Linked DNA regions of Homo sapiens. The protein of the gene in region 4 purifies or fractionates together with the protein of the main gene of each other region. This does not show direct contact. Each region holds a gene or a part of one and is shown on either strand. Other genes may lie near its edges. The genes, in order: NIPSNAP2, ZFC3H1, MTUS1, SLC13A5, ZNF609 and RAB3D.

Evidence for each region.
Region 1: the proteins of SLC13A5 (region 4) and NIPSNAP2 purify together in Homo sapiens (affinity purification with mass spectrometry; one large-scale study listed by BioGRID and IntAct). This does not show direct contact.
Region 2: the proteins of SLC13A5 (region 4) and ZFC3H1 purify together in Homo sapiens (affinity purification with mass spectrometry; one large-scale study listed by BioGRID and IntAct). This does not show direct contact.
Region 3: the proteins of SLC13A5 (region 4) and MTUS1 purify together in Homo sapiens (affinity purification with mass spectrometry; one large-scale study listed by BioGRID and IntAct). This does not show direct contact.
Region 5: the proteins of SLC13A5 (region 4) and ZNF609 purify together in Homo sapiens (affinity purification with mass spectrometry; one large-scale study listed by BioGRID and IntAct). This does not show direct contact.
Region 6: the proteins of SLC13A5 (region 4) and RAB3D purify together in Homo sapiens (affinity purification with mass spectrometry; one large-scale study listed by BioGRID and IntAct). This does not show direct contact.

Annotation. Positions count from the first base shown.
Region 1 is NC_000007.14:55,971,085-55,974,584, forward strand, and holds part of NIPSNAP2 (protein NipSnap homolog 2), read left to right. Parts: intron 1-3,500. UniProt on the Homo sapiens protein: Protein involved in mitophagy by facilitating recruitment of the autophagy machinery required for clearance of damaged mitochondria.
Region 2 is NC_000012.12:71,657,349-71,660,848, forward strand, and holds part of ZFC3H1 (zinc finger C3H1 domain-containing protein), read right to left. Parts: exon of another isoform or gene 3,023-3,500; intron 1-3,022. UniProt on the Homo sapiens protein: Subunit of the trimeric poly(A) tail exosome targeting (PAXT) complex, a complex that directs a subset of long and polyadenylated poly(A) RNAs for exosomal degradation. The RNA exosome is fundamental for the degradation of RNA in eukaryotic nuclei.
Region 3 is NC_000008.11:17,791,095-17,794,594, reverse strand, and holds part of MTUS1 (microtubule-associated tumor suppressor 1), read left to right. Parts: intron 1-3,500. UniProt on the Homo sapiens protein: Cooperates with AGTR2 to inhibit ERK2 activation and cell proliferation. May be required for AGTR2 cell surface expression. Together with PTPN6, induces UBE2V2 expression upon angiotensin-II stimulation.
Region 4 is NC_000017.11:6,686,795-6,689,369, reverse strand, and holds part of SLC13A5 (Na(+)/citrate cotransporter), read left to right. Parts: intron 1-1,533; coding exon of another isoform or gene 1,534-1,593; exon of another isoform or gene 1,594-1,703; coding exon 1,704-1,841; exon of another isoform or gene 1,842-2,017; intron 2,018-2,575. UniProt on the Homo sapiens protein: High-affinity sodium/citrate cotransporter that mediates the entry of citrate into cells, which is a critical participant of biochemical pathways.
Region 5 is NC_000015.10:64,673,578-64,677,077, forward strand, and holds part of ZNF609 (zinc finger protein 609), read left to right. Parts: intron 1-338; coding exon 339-2,679; intron 2,680-3,500. UniProt on the Homo sapiens protein: Transcription factor, which activates RAG1, and possibly RAG2, transcription. Through the regulation of RAG1/2 expression, may regulate thymocyte maturation.
Region 6 is NC_000019.10:11,336,858-11,341,145, forward strand, and holds the start of RAB3D (ras-related protein Rab-3D), read right to left. Parts: upstream 2,801-4,288; 5' UTR 2,612-2,800; intron 604-2,611; 5' UTR 543-603; coding exon 315-542; intron 1-314. UniProt on the Homo sapiens protein: The small GTPases Rab are key regulators of intracellular membrane trafficking, from the formation of transport vesicles to their fusion with membranes.

The DNA.
Region 1 (3,500 bases), on a different chromosome or scaffold from region 4:
TTATCCTCTGGAAAGTGCCCCCTACCATCTTGGCGATTGTCACTGTCAGTTAAGAACCCAGGCCCAAGCCAGATCTTATCATTTGGGCAGCCGTTGGCATAGCTGCGACTCGAATGACTAGATAGGTTGGGCATGTTAGGCAGCTTTGGTCACCTGACACTCAAAGATTTCAGTTTGACGGTTGGGGGTAGTACTGGCCGGCTTGTTTTTCATTTGTCAAGACGATTGCTGCCCAAGTTCACAAGCAAATGCCACTCAGGTTCTTTTGTGTGTGCTGTGTTGATTTAGTCTCACCCCCTGCTCTGCATTTTTCGATTACTAGCATTGTCACATCCCTTACCTCATTGTACCCACCCAAAGGGGAATCCCTTTGGTATTATTATTTGTTTGTTTGTTTTAGAGGTGGTCTTGCTCTGTTGCCCGGGCTGGAGTACAGTGCATGATCATAGCTCACTACAGCATTGAACTTGTGGGCTCAAGCGATCCTCCTGCCTCAGGTTCCTGGGTAGCTAGGACCATAAGCACGAGCCACCATGCCCAGCTACTCTTTTTATTTTTTTTTGTAGAGACAGGGTCTTCCTATGCTGCCCAGGCTGACTTTGGTGTTTCTGAGATATGAAATAAATGCTCAGTTGGGGTGATTTTTATTTCAAAGGCATCCTTTATCAGTGAAAATATTATCTGTCTATAAATATACATAATATATGTTTGCCTCTGTATTTCTGGAAGGATATACATAAAACTATTAGTAGTCATTGCTTTAGTATTTCTTATTTTAAGTGAAACTCCCTAGTCAGTATTTTTAGACACTTTTTATTATATCCCTTTCTTAATTGTTCATAATTGTTATTCCTAAGCTTTTACAATTTATTTAACAAAAAAAATTGTAGACACAATTTCTGTTTAATGAACTTAAAATCTAAAATAAACACAGAAATTGGCTGGGCACAGTGGCTCACACCTATAATTCCAGCACTTTGGGAGGCCGAGGCAGGTGGATCACCTGAGGTCAGGGGTTCAAGACCAGCCTGGCCAACATGGTGAAAACCCACCTCTACTAAAAATACAAAAATTAGATGGGTGTGGTGGTGGGTGCCGCTAGTCTCAACTGCTTAGGAGGCTGAGGCAGGAGAATCACTTGAACCCAGGAGGCGGAGGTTGCAGTGAGCTGAGATTGTGCCACTATTGCCCTCCAGCCTGGGCAACAGAGCAAGACTCTGTCTCAAAAAAAAAAAAGAACATACAGAAATTACATAGTCCCATAAACAAATCTTAAAACTTTCTACTTTGTGTATCACTAATTTTATATGGTTGCCTTAAAGTAATGCGTAAGTTTCTTTTTTCTTTTTCTTTTTTTTTTTTTTTGAGACAGAGTTTCACTCTTGTTGCCCAGGCTGGAGTGTAGTGGCGTGATCTCGGCCCACTACACCCTGCACCTCCCGGGTTCAAGCGATTCTCCTGCCTCAGCCTCCTGAGTAGCTGGGATTACAGGCATGCGCCACCATGCCTGGCTAATTTTATATTTTTAGTAGAGACGGGGTTTCTGCATGTTGGTCAGTCTGGTTTCCCGACCTCAGGTGATCCACCCGCCTCCTTGGCCTCCCAAAGTGCTGGGATTACAAGCATGAGCCACTGTGCCCAGCCCATGATATTATTAAACAGATATCCCTAAATGTAGTGTACGTAAAACACTTCAAACTAATTGACAAAATGTGCTTTCATTTTTATTGGAATATGGCTGGGTGTGGTGGTTCACGCCTATAATCCCAGGACTTTGGGAAGCTGAGGCAGGCAGGTCACTTGAGCTCAGAAATTCAAGACCAACCTGGGCAGCATGGTGAAACCCTGTCTCTACAAAAAAATACAAAAATTAGTTGGATGTGGTGCTGGGCACCTGTAGTCCCAGCTACTTGGGAGGGGTTGAGACAGGAGGATAGCTTGAACCCGGGAGGTCGAGGCTACAGTGAGCCAAGATCACGCCACTGCACTCCAGCCTGAGTGACAAAGTGAGACCCTGTCTCAAAGAAAAAAAAAATACAGAAGAGAAAAGCACAATATAGACATTATATGGAGAAAGCTGTGTGTCTTTCCCCTCTATCCCTTTAAACCATTTTCTCAGGGAAACCACCATTAATGCTTTCTTAATTTTTAGGAATTTTTATATATAGTAAACACAAATTGGAAGCATCTTCAACTTACATCTGCAAATGCCACTTAATACTATATGTTTTTATCTTTCAAGAAAAATTGCATTTACTGGTATTGTTATTTTGCTTGTTTAAAGTGAGTTTGCTTCTTTTTAATCTTTGAAGGATGTGAAAACGTGCTTTTATATTTCTTTATAATTATTTATAGAGCACATTTTATTTTTAATTTATTTTATTTTATTTTATTATTATTACTTTTTTTGAGATTGAGTCTTGCTGTGTAGCCCAGGCTGGAGTGCAGTGGCACGACTTGGCTCACTGCAATCTCCACCTCCTGGGTTCAAGCGATTCTCCTACCTCAGCCTCCTGAGTAGCTGGGATCACAGGCGTGTGCCACCACACCCAGCTATTTTTTTTTTTTTTTGTAGTGTTAGTAGAGACAAGATTTCACCATGTTGGCCAGGCTGGTCTTGAACTCCTGACCTCAGGTGATCCACCTGCCTCGGCCTCCCAGAGAGCTGGGATTTAGAAGCGTGAGCCACCACTCCCGGCCAATATATTTGTATTTGTAAGTTCACATCATTCAAAAATCTTTATATCTGGTTTCTACCTATTTGAGACAATATCCTATGAATTGGTTTTTAAATTAAAAGAACATCATATTGGGGAGAAGATTGCTCTGTAATGTTTGTTCAAGAAAGCAGCAAACTAGGCTGAGTGCGGCAGCTCACCCTTGCAATCTCAGCACTCTGGGAGGCTGAGGCTGGCGGATCACTTAAGGCCAGGAATTCGAGACCAACCTGGCCAACATGATGAAACCCTGTCCCTACTAAAAATACAAAGATTAGCCGGATGTGGTGGCATGCACCTGTAGTCCCAGATAGTCAGGAGGCTGAGGTGGGAGAATTGCTGGAACCTGGGAGGCAGAGGTTGCAGTGAGCCGAGATTGCACTACTGCACTCCAGCAAGTGCAATGAGACCCTGCCTCAAAAATAAATAAATAAAGCAGCAAACTGATTTTTTAAGCAAAAAAAAAGAAAGAAAGAAAGAAAGAAAAAGGCTGCCAGTATCATGTGAAATTTAGAGCCCTACTTCTAAAATACCGTTGCTGCATAAGAATAGGAATTTCTATTATTGTAGTATGAAATCCATGTGTTCATTTCATGAAGTACTGGGGAATTTGCTCTCATGAGAGTTTTTCTTGTCCCTTGTTTAAATTCCTGGTCCCCCTTTTTAATACCTGGAGTTGCTCTTTCTTTTCCTCTTAATGTTTACCTGGTGGTATCTGGGTGCTTAAGCAAGTCTACCAAGCAGATTAGAAATACTATTGTAGAAGGCTGGGCGCAGTGGCTC
Region 2 (3,500 bases), on a different chromosome or scaffold from region 4:
AAATTTAACAAAAAAACTTAGATTATAGATGAATTTTCTCCCTTTTTAATTTTTCAAGAAAAATGAATCGATATTTTTAAATTACTAAATTCCATTTAATGTATGTGCAGCTAATGCCCACTTTCATTACGTGCCCATATTTGAATTTAGTAAGTACCATATAAACAGTCCACTTACAAAATCACTAGTGTCATAATTACCAGTAGTATCCACAGACAGTCCACCTAGTTAGGTTATAGCATCATTCCTTCTGTGCCAGGAAAGTCCATAATTAGCTGTATGTTAGAGATTATTTTCTGAAGGAAGAGGGGAGAAACTGAATGCTTTGTCACAGATGCGGATAGTTTACACTTCAGGGGGCCAGGCGCGGTGGCTCACGCCTGTAATCCCAGCACTTTGGGAGGCCGAGGCAGGAGGATCACTTGAGGTCAGGAGTTTGAGACCAGCCTGGCCAACACAGTGAAACCCCATCTCTACTAAAAATTAAAAAATTAGCCAGGCGTGGTGGTGCAGGCCTGTAGTCCCAGGTACTTGAGACGCTGAGGCAAGAGAATTGCTTGAACTCAGGAGGCGGAGGTTGCAGGGAGCCAAGATCACACCACTGCACTCCAGCCTGGGCAACAGAGGGAGACCTCATCTCAAAAAAAAGAAAAAAAAAAACACTTTAAAATAGTACTCAAAATATATCTATTTTTCTCCTACAGACAAGGGAAAATGTTATGAAAATAATCTGAAGCAACTGTTCTTACTTTCTTCTCTAACACAGTGATACACAAAAGGTAACTTTTTCCTTAGAAACAGCTACAAAATTTCAAACTACAATTTTTATTCTAAACAATTCATACACGAGAATTGTTATACCTCATTTTTCCAGGCCAGATATTAGCAAGAGAAAAGACAGTACCTCCTGTGGTTTTAATACATCATTTATAGATTTTTTTTTTTTTTTTTTTTTTTTGAGACAGAGTCTCGCACTGTCAGCCAGTCTGGAGTGCAGTGGTGCGATCTCGGCTCACTGCAACCTCCGTCTCCCAGGCTCAAGCAATTCTCCTGTCTCAGCCTCCTGAGTAGCTTGGATTACAGGTGCGTGCCACCATGCCCAGCTAATTTTTGTATTTTTAGTAGAGATGGAGTTTCACCATGTTGACAAGGCTGGTCTTGAAATCCTGACCTCAGGTAATCCGCCCACCTTGACCTCCCAAAGTGCCGGGATTACAGGTGTGAGCCACTGCACCCAGCCTATAGATTATTTTCAGTTGGCTAGGATGTAAAATACAGTACCCCAAATACGGTTCTTCTGTTTAAACACCTCACAGGGCAAGCAGCAGAAAAGGTTTTTAAACTCTCCTGATGACCAGTTCTAAAAATGAGAATTACCATCATCTAAGAAACAAAAATAAGCAATAAGTACATCTGAAAATCTTAACAGTTCTACAGCAAAACTGTTCTAGTAAATCTCTGGTTCTCTGATCTCTTCAAAGCCAAGTATCCTGAAAGAAAACTAGTTTCTCTGTACCCTTCTTACCAAATGGAATCTGGTTTCTGTCCCATTAATCTAGAGAGACTGCTGTGGCTAAGTTTCCCTATCAATGTTTTCAAACTTTATTTTTTTTTACCTGACCCCTCTGAGAATCTGACACCATAAACCACTTCTCTCTTGGCTTCCATAACTCCGCATCTCCCTTTGTTTCCCTATTTGTGTTTTGTCTTTTAAGTCTCCATTGAGTCTTTTCTCTCTAACTTGTGAAATAATGGTGCTCTTCAGGGAGCACTACTTAGCCTCTTTCTCATTTTGAGCATTCTAATGCACCTCCACAGTTTTACCTACCACAGGAGAGTTTACCCTGGTGATAAGATATTTCTCTTATCTCCTACAAGCCATCCTTCATACTGCTGCTGCCAGAGTAATCTTTCTAGAATACAAATATAAGATCATTCCCCTTGTTTAAATTTCCCTAATAAAAAAGTCCAAAATCCTGAGAATAAATATAATCTGACCTGTGCTTTCCTTTCCAAACTTACTTTTTCCTTGTTCATCACAATTTTTGCATAGCTTTGTGTCTAAGTTTGTCTGTTCTTCAACTTAACCCCAATTCAAGTGTCACCTCTGTGAAGCCTGAGTTTCTCACTCTCCCTTCCCCTCTTACACACTCTTTGTATGTAAGTTCTGTAATTATCTGCATTTACATCTTACTTTTCACTGGAGCCATTTAAAGGCACAACTGCAATTAAAAAAAAAAGAAAAGAAAGGGAAATGATTAAATACACTAACAAAAATGCTAAATAGAAAAATAAGGAAAAGCAATTGAGTTACAACTATAACTGACTAATCTCCTTCAAGGCTAAAGAAAATCTATCCCTATCTATACAGAAGCCTAAGATCAAACCAACACTTACCAGATTTAATTTTAAGCTTGTCAAGATACAATTTCTAACTGAACCTTGGTTTAAACAAAAAGAAGTGCTATTCAACCTTTTCAGCTGCAGCTGAAAATGGAATGACTTTTTACTGATGAGAGACACTAGCCTAATTATGTTAGCTCTCCTCAGATTTGAAAGTTTAAAAGAGTAGTCATTCAAGGGAGACATGCTAAGATGTACTGACAAAGTGTCTATCATTAAGAAAAATTAAGGGTGAAAATAAGAACTGCAATTGAATCTAGTTTATTCTATTTCTTTAAAGTTGCAACTAGCATATCTTAGTTATTACAGTGAAAGGAGTTATGGCAAAAATAGAAATAAACCCTATACTCAGGCTACTTTACTTCTAAATTACAGAAATATGCCACAGAGTAACCTGCATTCTTTCTTTATACAGTATTTGTAAAATAAAAAAGGTATTATTATAATCACATAGTGGAAATATGAATTAAACTGAGTACAACCTTGATATTAAATAAATTTGAATGAAGTGTTGTAACAAATATTTTGTTTGCTCACATTATATAAAAGTAGCTGGGAACTACGTTTTCCTTCTCAAATTCTTAAAAAGAACACCACCTCTAGGATGGATTACTGATACTTCATAGGGAAAACAATGAGCAGGACATCAAAACAAGCATCCTTTTAAGTGCAGCATCTGTGAAAAGAAAAACAACAAGATATCTTATTTATGACAAGTTACTACGGAAATCAAAGTCACACAAGCAGACTGGATATTTTCTGGTACTTTTTTTTTTTTGCAACATCATATGCCAGTTTACTAATAAAAACATGCAAGCTTACCAATTAATAAAGGTCTATGGTAGAGGCCCAAAATAGTATTGAATAAACACGCAGAAAGAGGACAAAAGCAGAAAGCCCACTCACCTCCCCCTTTTCTAATACAGAATAAAAATTTTAAGAAAAACCTTTGAGCTCCCATAGTACTTTTTTATATACATACTTCAGTTTCAACTTTTTATACTAAACTGCAACTACTTATTTTCATTTGTTTCCCTAATACAAACTACAGGTTTCATCTTTGTACCTTTAAAAAACACATATAAACTGGTGGCTCT
Region 3 (3,500 bases), on a different chromosome or scaffold from region 4:
GCTGGTGGGTCAGGATAGGGTAGAAGGATATTGGAGAATGAGAAATGGATTTAAAAGGGCTGAGCCATGCCAAGACCTAGCTACCAAGAAAAATTCACGTGTTGTATTAGATCCCCAATCTAGGCCCCACATACAGAACCAAGTCATTTATACGTAGTGTATAGTTAGGCTTATATTTCATGTAAAATGATAAATAAAAAGCATGAGTAAAAATCCTTGCTGTTAGAATATTATGTTTGATTTTTTTTTCTTTTATCTTTTTTTTTGAGACAGAGTTTTGCTCTTGTTGCCCAGGCTGGAGTGCAGTGGCGTGATCTTGGCTCACTGCAGTGTCCGCCTCCTGGGTTCAAGCGATTCTCCTGCCTCAGCTTTCTGAGTAGCTGGGATTACAGGCATGCACCACCACGCCCGTCTTCATTTTTTATTTTTAGTAGAGACAGGGTTTCACCATGTTGATCAGGCTGGTCTCGAACTCCTGACCTCAGGTGATCCACCGGCCTTGGCCTCCCAAAGTGCTGGGACTACAGACGTGAGCCACTGTGCCCGGCCTGTGTTTGGTTTTCCTCAGCCTCAGCCATTTTTGAGCACTTTCTATGGGCCAAACACTGAGGTAGAAGAGAAAAAAAAGAATTTGACCTCTTTTCTTGGAGGAGTCAGAGAAACCCCAATCATTGTGAAAAGTGCAGTTTTGGAGATGTTAGTAAGTGTTTGTGTTGTTCGAAATATTCTCCCAGGTTGTTAACGTTGGGCTTTGCATTAAAAATTCCACCTGCTGACTTGACCAAAGTTTGGTCACGTAGGTTGTATTGACATTCTTGGTTATATAAAGCATCCTTGTCATTAATCATGCTTACCCTTTTCCTTCTCACCAAAAGGATTAAGAAGGAAAATACTTAGCACTGTACTCTTTGGCGTCTCTTAATTTCTCTCAATGAGAATCTTTAGTTACCTTTTCCAGTATATTTTTGCTACATCTTGTAAGCTCCTTAAGGATAGGGTCTAAATGTTCGGATGCTGGGTACATTTTTACTTTTATAATTATTTCTCCCAGATGTGGTCTGGAATAAATCATCTAGAGCTCTGATGGCATGGGAATTTGAAATTCTTTTGTCAGATAGTCACAGCTACTGGAAGGTCTTTTAAACCACAGGTATTAATTTCCTTATTGCTTTTCTGTGCCTTGCTCCTTGCCCTCTCCTCTTGCCCTCACCCCCTCATCCATTGTTTCATACTCAGCAAGCAGAGGGAAGGTAGTTTACCCTCAGTCTTGTGTCCGACTGAACGGCCATGGCTTTGGGAGCAGAGCATCAGAGCTGGAAGGTGCCAAGTTTCCTGATGCTTCTGAGTTACTGTTTTATTATGAAGAGTCAGTTTGAGAACATCTGGCATACCCATGTGCAAATACATGTACGTAATTGATTCCACTCATGATTTATGACATTCCCTATTCGTGCAGACAATCGCAAGTTGACAATTTCTTTTGACTAGGGACTTGGGCTGTTTTCTGTTTAGAGAAAAATGTATGTACAACTTAGGAATTCAGATAACTTTGCAGTCTAGGATTCTTTTTTCTCATTACATCTAATAAGATTTGTGTTTCAGAGTAGTTTTGCATTTATGTAAAACTTTTCAATAGTTCTCTAGACTTGCTGGTTATTGAACTTGATTTAATGCTGTGAAGAAGTATTTTCTGTTTAAGGGTTAAAAAATTGTTTTGCTTTCAGATTTTTTTTGAGACAGAGTCTTGCTGTGTCACAGGCTGGAGGACAGTGGTGTGATCTCGGCTCACTGCAACCTCCGCCTCCCAGGTTTAAGTGATTCTCATGCCATAGCCTTCTGAGTACCTGGCACTACAGGTATGCGCCACCGCGCCTGGATAATTTTTGTATTTTTGGTAGAGACAGAATTTCCCCATGTTGGCCAGGCTGGTGGCAATCTCCTGGCCTCAGGCGATCTGTCCACCTTGTCCTTCCAAAGTGCTGGGATTACAGGCGTAAGCCACCATGCCCAGCCTTCTGATGTTGCTTTATAGTGTTTTTGATGGCACCTCTGCAAAGGGATTTACTTACTCTTAATTTGAATTTAAAAGAGTAGGGTCAGTTAATGAAAAGGGAGGTAAGAAAAATCCTACATTTCTGTTTCTATGAGAAAACCTAAACCATTTTATATTGCAGATAAGACTATTTTGTTGGAAAGTTCTGGTTACAGCTTATTAGGCTGAACATTTAAAAATGTATAACCTTGTAGATATATAATCAAATGAAAACTATTTTCTCCTTATATGGTGTGAGTTGTTTTGATCTTGAATGATTAGCCCTCCATCCTTCAGTGCTAGGGACTGCTTTTCTTCTCTCCTTCCTCCTGTTTTTATTGAATTTCAAATAATAAATAGAGGTATTTCACCATTTAGCTAGATTTTGCCCACCATGACATCCATTATGAAACCCTGGGGACATACTTTATTATAGAATTGGAAAAATGTAATGGGTATCCAGGACATTTGGTGCAGTAATGTCATAGAGAGTGCACAGACTTAACAGGCAAAATTGGGTTCATGTCTGAGATTTTCCTATTAGCCATGTGACCTTGAGTGAAATTTCATTACCTTTGCTCCCCAGTTGGCTCATCAGGACGCTGGAAGGTGGGGGTAGTACCTTGTCTCCTGGGGTTATTCTGACACAGGTGCCAGGTATATAGAAAATGATCAATGGGTGCTAATAACCTTCCTTAGTCTCTAGTTTTAAATTAAATCTTCTGATTCATAGATAGGTGTTTCATTTAATTTCTGCTGCTTAGCCTTGGAGGTGTTGCTTGGATCTGCTGGTGCTGTCGGTTGGGAGTTAAATTCTAGGCTCAGGAGGCTGATAACTTTCCCTCTTCCTTAGGAGGAATTGATTTGTAGCAAACATTGGAGATTGTTTATTCTCAGACTCCAGCTTTGTCACCTCTTGTTTTTCTTGAAAGTTTAAGTCTAGTGAGCTGCTGATACTCCATTTGAACTGTGTTTTCAAAAAATCAATGTAGATACTTTTATCTTTGGTAAAGTCTGTAAATTATGTTGCCTCTTTGCTATCAGTCAGCACATTCGAAAGACAATTGAGTCATCACTTTGAACTAATCTTGGACTTGTGGATATTACAGTACTAAGGTTCCCTGTTCTGATTTTTCACCTGTAACATAGTCCAGAATATTTGTATTTTAGAGTTTCAATTGTAAAATGTTACTATTAATATACAGTATTTAAATATAAAAGCAATTTTGTATTTTCATCTTTTAAGCATAGTGAAATATTAATTCCCTATGTTTGTGGCAAGCACATTGTAAATATGATATTAAGAACTGATCACATCAGCCCTGCGGTTGGGCAGAGCAGGTCATGAGTGCTTTCTTTTATACTGAAGGAGACTGGGGACCAGAACTATTTGGATAAATGTTTTGTCTTATGGCGAGTAAGTTATGGAACTGGGACTGGACTTGTACCGGTCCATTTCCCACACCCA
Region 4 (2,575 bases):
AAGGTGATGGTCATTGAGCTGGGCTGCAGAGGAGTGTGAGGTGCAGACACCATGAGGTACCCACAGCCAGGAAAACGAGGATGGTCGGGGAGACGCGCCAGCGAAGAGCTGGGCCCCTGCGTGGGACCCCTCAGTGGTTCCCAGGGGGCGTGGGACTTGCGCAGTCCTTTCAGAGGGCTGTTTACCAACAGGAACCGTAACATTAAACCTGCTCAGACCCCTTGACTCAGCAATTTCATGTCTGGGAATATATCTTAGGAAAATAATCAGAGATGCCTACCAACATATGTGATGATGATGTATGACAGAATTATTATACAAATATATCCATAGTAACAGGGGGTTTGCTGAAATAAATTATCATATATTCATATAATATGACATTATCAGGCCATTAAAAATCACAGTTTCAAAGAGTAATAAAATGGGAACATGCTCATAGTATAGTTTTTTAAAATTGCAGATGGTATATGGCTAAAAATGTCTAATAATGCAAAGATGTATACAGACCTTAATCCTCTAGCCTCCTCCCTAGAGATGACCTCTGTTAATTTCTCAAATATTTTTCTGGATATTTTACACACTCACACACTTTTTTTGAGACAGAGTTTCACTCTTGTCACCCAGGCTGGAGTGCAATGGTGTGATCTTGGCTCACTGCAACCTCCACCTCCCGGGTTCAAGAGATTCTCCTGCCTCAGCCTCCCGAGTAGCTGGGATTACAGGTGCCTGCCACCTTGCCTGGCTAATTTTTTGTATTTTTAGTAGAGACGGGGTTTCACCACATTGGTCAGGCTGGTCTCAAACTCCTGACCTCAGGTGATCCGCCTGCCTTGGCCTCCCAAAGTGCTGGGATTACAGGCGTGAGCCACTGCGCCCGGCCATTCATCTTAATTTTTAAAAAATCTAACCATGAAGCCTTGGTTATCTTGGAGAGCTTTCCTGATTAGCACAAAAAGAAAAAAAAATCCAATTCTTTACAGCTGCATACTATTCCATTATTTGTATGTGTCATATTTTATTTAACCATCCTGCTATTAGTGACCATTGAGTTGGCTTCCTGTGTTTTGCCGTTACATGGTTGCAACAAACATGTTTGCATGTGTCTGCCCTCATGTGCATGATACATGATTGATTTGATAGATTTTAGGAATTACATCATTCATTCATACACTCAGCAAATATTTAATGAGTGCCTACTCTCTGATAGGTGCTGTTGGATGTGGCTAAATTTTAAAGTGTAGAATTTAAAAGGTGGCTACCAAATTCCATGTGCAAAATGACCCCACGCATGTATAAAAACACACACATCCACAGATTTATATGCGGGAGAGAAGATGTGGTCCCTGGCCTCTAGGCTCTCTCAGTCTGTGGCAAGACAGACAGACATGTGCACGCGGCACTGTAAGGTTGAGCACAGTCTAAGTACTCAGCATGGTCTCTGGCACATAGTAGGTGCCCAAGAAATACATGTCGAATGAATTGAGGGGGTAAGGCCTTCTAGGGCAGGTGGCCTCTGACCTCAGCCTTCAGTGTTCCGTAGGTGGAATTATCTGCCAGAGACGTGGCAAAAGGGAGAGGAACCAAGACTGAGGCACAGAGGTTCAAACGTACCCGGCACATTCAGAGAATCCTTTTCAGAATCACGTCCCCAAGAGCTTCTGTGTTCTGTACGGTGATGTTGCAGTGCTGTTTTTCCGCAGTCTCGCTCCATCGGCCTCAATCCGCTGTACATCATGCTGCCCTGTACCCTGAGTGCCTCCTTTGCCTTCATGTTGCCTGTGGCCACCCCTCCAAATGCCATCGTGTTCACCTATGGGCACCTCAAGGTTGCTGACATGGTAACACAGCTGTTTTTATTTACTCCCGTCGGACTATAACGCTGTTGTCATAAGGGATGCCCCATTTATGAATGACAGAGTTTCAAAACGATGTCATGTGACTTGGGAATGCCACGGAACATCCAGACCTGTAGCCATTGTTGACATTTATAATGCAGCTTTTCTTCTTTTTCTGAGATGATCTCAAGCCTCACACACTGTTCTTTCTCTGAGGTGGGTTATAGACTCTCCCACCTGGAGAAGCCTGTGCAGGCACCAGGGGAGTCCTTGGAAGGGGTGAAGGTGGGGCTGAGGGACTCATATGGCCAAGGATGAACTTGACAAATTAGCAAGAACCATGAAGATAGGCAGGGCAGGCTTAGGCAGCAGGGGGATGCTAATGACAGTCACAGAGATTTGTAGGGGTGCCTGAAGAGGTAGAAGCAGGGAGAGGGAGAGAGAGAGCACTGCCTGGGAGTAGATGATGCCTTGGAAACAAATGTAGTCAGAGGAAGAACTCTTCATTAGCTCTGTCACCTTTGCTGGGAGAAGGGCAGCTTTGCAGCTCTGGGCTGGGAAAGAGGCAAGTGTTTGAGCCCAAGAGGCCAGAAATGTACCTGGGACCAATCGGGTGTTCGTTATCTCAGAGCCTCTGCTGGGTATCTCAGGGACTCCATGAGCATTTTCAAAAAAAAAGGTGGGTCCCAGAAACCATGGACTGCAAACTTGACTCCAATCCCCAGTAAAATATCTAC
Region 5 (3,500 bases), on a different chromosome or scaffold from region 4:
GACAAGTCATTTAGCATGCCTGGCCTCAATTTCCTGTATGATCTCTAACATCTTTTCTGAAACCATGACTATGGCTGTATATAGGAAATGTTGACTTGACTATCTTACGGAACAGATTCTGCATGGTTTTAGAGGTAAATGTTTGGGAATAATTTGCAGCTAACGTGTATCCCAGGAGTTCACCATTTAGTGCAATTCACAATCAGAATTTCTTTTAACAAATCATATTCATTGAAAATGATAGTCACCATCTGGACAGTTCTGGAGGCTACAGCTAAACTGCTTTGAAGATGTTTTCTCTTCTTAATAATATTCTGTTGTGTTTATCCTTTGCCAAGGTTCTGTGACTCCCCGACCAGTGACCTGGAAATGCGCAATGGCCGGGGTAGAGGCAAACGCATGCGTCCCAACAGTAATACACCTGTCAATGAGACAGCCACAGCCTCTGACAGCAAAGGGACCAGTAACAGCAGCAAAACCCGGGCAGGAGCCAATAGCAAAGGCCGTCGGGGCAGCCAGAATTCTTCAGAGCACCGCCCACCTGCCAGCAGCACTTCTGAGGATGTCAAGGCCAGCCCTTCCTCAGCTAATAAGCGGAAAAACAAACCCCTTTCAGACATGGAGCTGAATTCTAGCTCAGAGGACTCCAAAGGGAGCAAGCGTGTCCGTACTAATTCCATGGGCTCAGCCACTGGCCCCCTTCCTGGGACAAAGGTAGAACCCACTGTTCTGGACAGAAACTGCCCCTCCCCCGTCCTAATTGACTGTCCCCACCCAAACTGCAACAAGAAGTACAAGCACATCAATGGACTTAAGTACCACCAAGCTCATGCCCATACAGATGATGACAGCAAGCCGGAAGCGGATGGGGACAGTGAGTACGGAGAGGAACCTATTCTCCATGCAGATCTTGGGAGCTGCAACGGTGCATCTGTCTCACAAAAAGGTTCCTTGTCCCCTGCCCGCTCAGCTACCCCCAAAGTTCGACTTGTAGAGCCCCATAGCCCTTCTCCTTCAAGCAAATTCAGCACAAAAGGCCTCTGTAAGAAAAAGTTGAGTGGGGAAGGGGACACAGACCTTGGGGCCTTATCCAATGATGGCTCTGATGATGGACCCTCAGTGATGGATGAAACAAGCAATGATGCCTTTGATTCTTTAGAAAGGAAGTGTATGGAAAAAGAAAAATGTAAAAAACCCTCTAGTTTAAAACCTGAAAAGATTCCTTCCAAGAGCCTAAAGTCAGCCCGTCCCATTGCCCCTGCCATCCCCCCACAGCAAATCTACACCTTCCAGACAGCCACCTTCACAGCAGCGAGCCCAGGCTCTTCCTCAGGCTTGACCGCCACAGTGGCACAAGCCATGCCCAACAGTCCCCAACTCAAGCCCATTCAGCCCAAGCCCACTGTTATGGGAGAACCTTTCACAGTCAACCCTGCCTTGACTCCAGCCAAGGACAAGAAAAAGAAAGACAAAAAAAAGAAGGAATCTTCAAAGGAACTTGAAAGTCCTCTGACCCCTGGGAAGGTGTGTCGAGCAGAGGAAGGCAAAAGCCCATTCAGGGAATCTTCAGGAGATGGGATGAAAATGGAGGGGCTCCTAAATGGCTCATCAGACCCCCACCAAAGCCGACTGGCTAGCATCAAGGCTGAAGCCGACAAGATCTACAGTTTCACGGACAATGCCCCCAGCCCTTCCATTGGAGGCAGTAGCCGCCTTGAAAACACTACCCCTACTCAGCCCCTGACTCCCTTACATGTGGTGACCCAGAATGGAGCTGAAGCCAGCTCAGTCAAAACCAACAGCCCTGCATACTCTGACATCTCTGATGCTGGGGAGGATGGGGAGGGCAAGGTAGACAGTGTCAAATCAAAGGACGCCGAACAGTTGGTTAAAGAAGGGGCTAAGAAAACTCTTTTTCCCCCTCAGCCTCAGAGCAAAGACTCACCATATTACCAAGGCTTTGAGAGTTACTATTCTCCAAGTTATGCACAGTCCAGCCCTGGGGCTCTGAACCCCAGCAGCCAGGCAGGAGTGGAGAGCCAGGCCCTGAAGACAAAAAGGGATGAGGAACCTGAGAGCATAGAAGGGAAAGTGAAGAACGATATCTGTGAAGAAAAGAAGCCCGAGCTGAGCAGTTCCAGTCAGCAGCCCTCGGTCATCCAGCAGCGTCCCAATATGTACATGCAGTCCCTGTACTACAACCAGTATGCCTATGTACCCCCCTATGGCTACAGCGACCAGAGTTACCACACCCACCTTCTGAGCACTAACACGGCTTACCGGCAGCAGTACGAAGAACAGCAGAAACGCCAGAGCTTAGAGCAGCAGCAGCGGGGAGTGGACAAGAAGGCAGAGATGGGCCTGAAGGAGCGGGAGGCAGCACTCAAGGAAGAGTGGAAGCAAAAGCCGTCAATTCCACCAACTCTCACCAAGGCCCCCAGCCTGACAGACCTGGTGAAATCAGGACCTGGCAAGGCCAAGGAGCCAGGGGCTGACCCAGCCAAATCAGTCATCATTCCCAAGTTAGATGACTCTTCAAAACTCCCGGGCCAGGCCCCTGAAGGCCTTAAAGTGAAGCTGAGTGATGCCAGCCACCTAAGCAAGGAGGCCTCTGAGGCCAAGACAGGTGCTGAGTGTGGTCGACAGGCAGAGATGGATCCAATACTCTGGTACCGACAGGTAACTGTTGCCCTGGGAGGAAGTGGAAATACCGTATGGTAATCGTCTATCTTCCTCACAAATAAGGGCTGTCCTTATACAGGGGTTCAACGGAATTGAGATTAGCAGGAGAGATGTATAATTTTAAGGATTCTTTACCTTTGTAAACTATTTTAATGTTTTTTATTTTATTTTAGTATTATTATTTTTTTTGAGATGGAGTCTCACTCTGTTGCCCAGGCTAGAGTGCAGTGGTGCAATCTTGGCTCACTACAACCTCCGCCTCCCAGGTTCAAGCAATTCTCCTGCCTCAGCCTCCCGAGTAGCTGAGATTACAGGCACACGCCACCATGCCCAGCTAATTTTTTTTGTATTTTTAGTAGAGATGGGGCTTCACCATCTTGGTCAGGCTGGTCTGGAACTCCTGACCTCAAGTAATCCACCTGCCTCAGCCTCCCAGAGTGCTGGGATTACAGGCATGAGCCACTGCACCCAGCCAATTTTTATTTTATTTTATTTATTTATTTATTTATTTTGAGATGGAGTCTGGCACTGTCACCCAGGCTGGAATGCACTGGCGCAATCTCAGCTCACTGCAACCTCTGCCTCCCAGGTTCACACGATTCTCCTGCCTCAGCCTCCCGAGTAGCTGGGATTACAGGTGCACGCCACCACACCTGGCTAATTTTTTGTATTTTTAGTAGAGACGGGGTTTCACCATGTTAGCCAGGATGGTCTTGATCTCCTGACCTTGTGATCCACCCACCTCGGCCTCCCAAAGTACCTGGATTAAGGCGTGAGCCACTGCGCCCAGTCGTAATTTTTTTTATTTTTATGTTTTT
Region 6 (4,288 bases), on a different chromosome or scaffold from region 4:
TACTCGGGAGACTGAGGCAGAAGAATTGCTTGAACCCAGGAGACGGAGGTTGCAGTGAGCCAACATTGTGCCATTGTGCTCCAGCCTGGGCGACAGAGCAAGACTCTGTCTCGAGAGAAAAAAAAAAAAAAAAGGTCGAGGCAGGAGAATCGCTTGAACCCAGGAGATGGAGGTTGCAGTGAGCCGAGATCCCGCCACTGCCCTCCAGCCTGGGCAACAGAGTGAGACTCCGTCTCAAAAAAAAAAAAAGAACCCTCCAATGAACTTTCCTGGAGGGACCCCACCCCCAACCCACAGCCAGCCTCCCAGCCTACCCAGATCTGCAGCTTGATCCTCTTGTCATGGCGGTAGACGGTCTTGACCTTGAAATCGATGCCCACAGTACTGACGAAGGCGGGAGTGAAGGAGTCGTCCGCGTATCGGAACAGGAAGGAAGTCTTGCCCACACTGCTGTTGCCTATCAGTAGCAGTTTGAACATATAGTCGAAGTTCTGATCTGCTGCATCCCGTGGGCCTGCCTGGGTGTCTCCAGCTGATGCCATCTTGGCACAAGCCTCCTGGGACAGGGAGACCTGAAATCCTCAGGGAGAGGAGACGGGCGTCCTGCAGGGGAATCAAACATCAAGAACAGCTCCTGTGAATGCACCAGGCCTGGATTCAAATCTCAGCTCGGTCACTCGGAGACCAAGTGATGCTGGATGCATCGCTTGCCCCCTCTAGACCTCAGTGTCCTCTTCTAAAAAATGGGATGTTTGTCACAGTCCCTTCCTGAAAGAGTAGTTGGTTGTGAGCCTAAAATGAGTTTCTTTCTTTCTTTTTTTTTTTTTTTAGAGACAAGATCTCGCTCTGTTGCCTGAGGCTGGAGCGCAGTGGCGTGATCATAGCTCACTGCAGTCTTGACCTCCTGGGCTCGAGTGATCCTCCTGCCTCAGCCTCCCAAGTAGCTGGGACTACAGACATGCCACCACATCAGGCTAATTTAAAAAAAATTTTTTTGTAGAGATGGGGTCTCATTATGTTGCCCATGCTGGTTTCAAACTCCTCTGCTCAAGCAATCCTCCTGCCTCAGCCTTCCAATGTGCTAGGATTACAGGCATGAGCCACCACGCCCGACCTAAAATGTGTTTCTTTATTCATTCAACAAATGCTTACTCTCTGCCGGGCCCTGTTCTCTGTGGAAATGCAGCTGTGAATAGGACAAGAAAAAGTCCATCCTCGGGTGGTCACGTTCCTTCCAGTGGGAAGGTATTAACACACGTAACGGTCATTAGACAGTGCCTGGTATAGAGCTGGGGCACAAAAAATGTGACTGCTGTTTAATCTTCACACCCTGTGGCGTAACTGAGTCTGTATTGGGGTGGAGGGTGGGGAGACCTTTCCTATCTGGAAACCCAGAGGCCTAGCAAAGGGTTCAAGTGCAAGGCCGAGGGTAAGGGGCTCTGGCCCCTGCAGAACTAGATTCTGGAGAAGGCACAGGTGTGGACTTCGCCCCAGCGTGTGCAGCCGGTGTGGCCCAGGTGTAAGCTGGGGTGGGGTGGGGGGAGGACCTGCCAGCTGGATAAGCTGGATAGAGCCCCTGATTAAGGCTTGGGTGTTGACTTTGGCAGGTGTCAGCCACTGGGGCGCCTGCCGCCCACCAACTCATGCCAAATACAACCCCTTCTCTGAGTTCCAAGGGGAAGGGGTTTTCTATGTACAGGGCCCAGGTTTAGAGTCCAGTTCTACCCCCTAAATGGGTACTGCTATTTTCTATTTGTCAAAGGGGCCAGGCCTGTCTCCTTCTGCCCAAGGCTGACTCACTCCAGCCCCAGTCCACGGAGGCAGGAGTGAGAGTCCTTATACCCAAGGAAACGATCCCAGCCACTTAATTAACACAACCCCACCACCACGACCACTGCCGCCCACCCTTGGTCTTTCCAGGCAATCTGTCCCACGGCTAGGCTCCTTGAATCTGCCCACACTCCAACATGCTGCTTCATCCGAGTCCAAGGTGCTCCCTCAACCCTCATAACCTCTCCCAGGCCTCAGTTTCCCCAGCTGTCTATGGCCGCTGCGGGAACCGCACGGAGAGGCTGCAGAAGGCCTGGATGCAGGCGGGGCAGAGGCAGAGACAGCCCTGGCACAGCTATTTCTCAACTGCCTTTGGGGCTTTTTTCCATTTTAAACCAGGACCCAACCGGCCCCACCCCGTGTTCCAGGAGAACGAGTTTAAGGAGGGGAAGAGAAGAGGCAGGAAACCTTTCCCCACGCAGGGCAGGGCCGCAAGGCTGGGGCCCCCACCTCCCCCAGCCTTAGCTCACCTGTGTCAGTCGGTCCCGCCTCTTTCTAACCATCTGCCGACCCTCCCTCAAGCCTGGCCCCGGAGGGCTCGCCTCTGTTCCCCTTCACTAGATTTGGGGCGCCCCAGCCAATGCAGGTGGACTCAGGAGTTTCCCCCATCACCATATGGTCCCAACGCCTGTCCCCAGCTGGGCTCTCTGCCCCGCCCGCGCCCCATCAGCGCTTCCCAAGTGCCCAGCTGGGTGGGGGCGAGGGCAGAGGCGTTCCCCGCAGCCCCGCCTTTGTTCCCCAGACCCCCTACCTTCCTCCCAAACCCCCGTACCCCACAGACCTGCTCGGATGCGGAGGGGCCGGGTGGGCTGCGCTCCTTCCCAGGGGTGACCTCGCGTAGGGGGCGCCGCCTGCAGGGGTTCCGCCTGTGAACTCGCTGCGGCTTGGCCCTGGCCGCGACCCCGACCCCGCAGCCGCAGAAGCCAGCAGCCTGCAGCCACCCGGATCCCGCGCGGGCTCCGCCCAGAAGGCGGAGGAAGGGCCGTTCCCGGAGCGGGGGATGGGGGAGGACGAAGAGGGGCCGAGTCTTGGGCGGGGCTTTCAGAGAGCGGGTGGGAGGGGCTGGAAGCTGCACCAAGCGTCTAGAGCCCGTCCTAGCCAAGCAACATCTCATTTTCCCAGCTGCTTGTAAAGAGCTTCTACTATACGCACGGCTGTTAAAAGCATAGAGTCTTGGGCCTGGTTCGAGTCCCAGCTCCACCACTTTCTAGTCTTGTGGCTTTGGACGCGTTACTTAACCTCTTTGAGCCTCAGTTTCCCCATCCGTCAAGTAGCTCATAGCGAGAGTACCCAACCTCACAGAGTTGTGGGAGGATTCTGATCTGAGTTAGTGTTTGTCAAGTGCAGTGCCGGCCTTAAAGTAGGCTAGGCCAGGCGCGGTGGCCTGTAATTACAGCAGTTTGGGAGGCCGAGGCAGGAGAATCACTTGAGGCCAGGAGTTTGAGACCAGCTTGGGCATCGTAAGGAGACCTCATCTCTACTAAAAATAACAAAAATTAGCCAGGTGTGGTGGCGTGCGTCTGTAACCCCAGCTACTTGGGAGGCTGAGGCAGGAGGATTGCTGGAGACATCGAGGCTGCAGTGAGCCTTGATTGCACCACAGCACTCCAGCCTGGGCAACAGAGCAAGACCCTGTTTCAAATAAATAAAAATAAACGAGAGCTGGGCGCGGTGGCTTATGCCTGTAATCCCAGTACTTTGGGAGGCCAAGGCAGGCGGATCACTTGAGGTCAGGAATTTAAGACCAGCCTGGCCAACATGGTGAAACCTCATCTCTACTAAAAAAAAAAAAAAAAAAATACAAATATTAGGGGCTGGGCACGGTGGCTCACACCTGTAATCTCAGCACTTTGGGAGGCCGAGGTGGGCAGATCACCTGAGGTCGGGAGTTCGAGACTAGCCTGGCCAACGTGAAGAAACCCTGTCTCTACTAAAAAATACAAAATTAGCCAGGCGTGGTGACGCATGCCTGTAATCCCAGTTACTCTGGAAGCTGAGGCAGGAGAATTGCTTGAACCCGGAAGGCGGAGGTTGCAGTGAGCCGAGATCACGCCACTGCACTCCAGCCTGGGCAAAAAGAGCGAAACTCTGTCTCAAATAAATAAATAAATATACAAAAATTAGCCGAGCATGGTGGTGCACACCTGTAATCCCAACTACTTGGGAGGCTGAGGCAGGAGAATCGCTTGAACCCAGGAGGTGGAGGTTGCAGTGAGCCGAGATCGCGCCACTGCACTCCAGCCTAGACGATGGAGTGAGACTCTGTCTCAAAAAAAAAAAAAAAAAAATTAAAAAATAAATGAGGCTGGGCACAGTGTCTGATGCCTGTAATCCCAGCCCTTTGGGAGGCTGAGGCAGGAGGATTCCTTGAGCTCAGGAGTTCAAGGCCAGCCTAGGCAACATAGAGATCCCAACTCTACAAAAAATTTTTTTGAAAATTAGCTGGCCACAAAAAAAA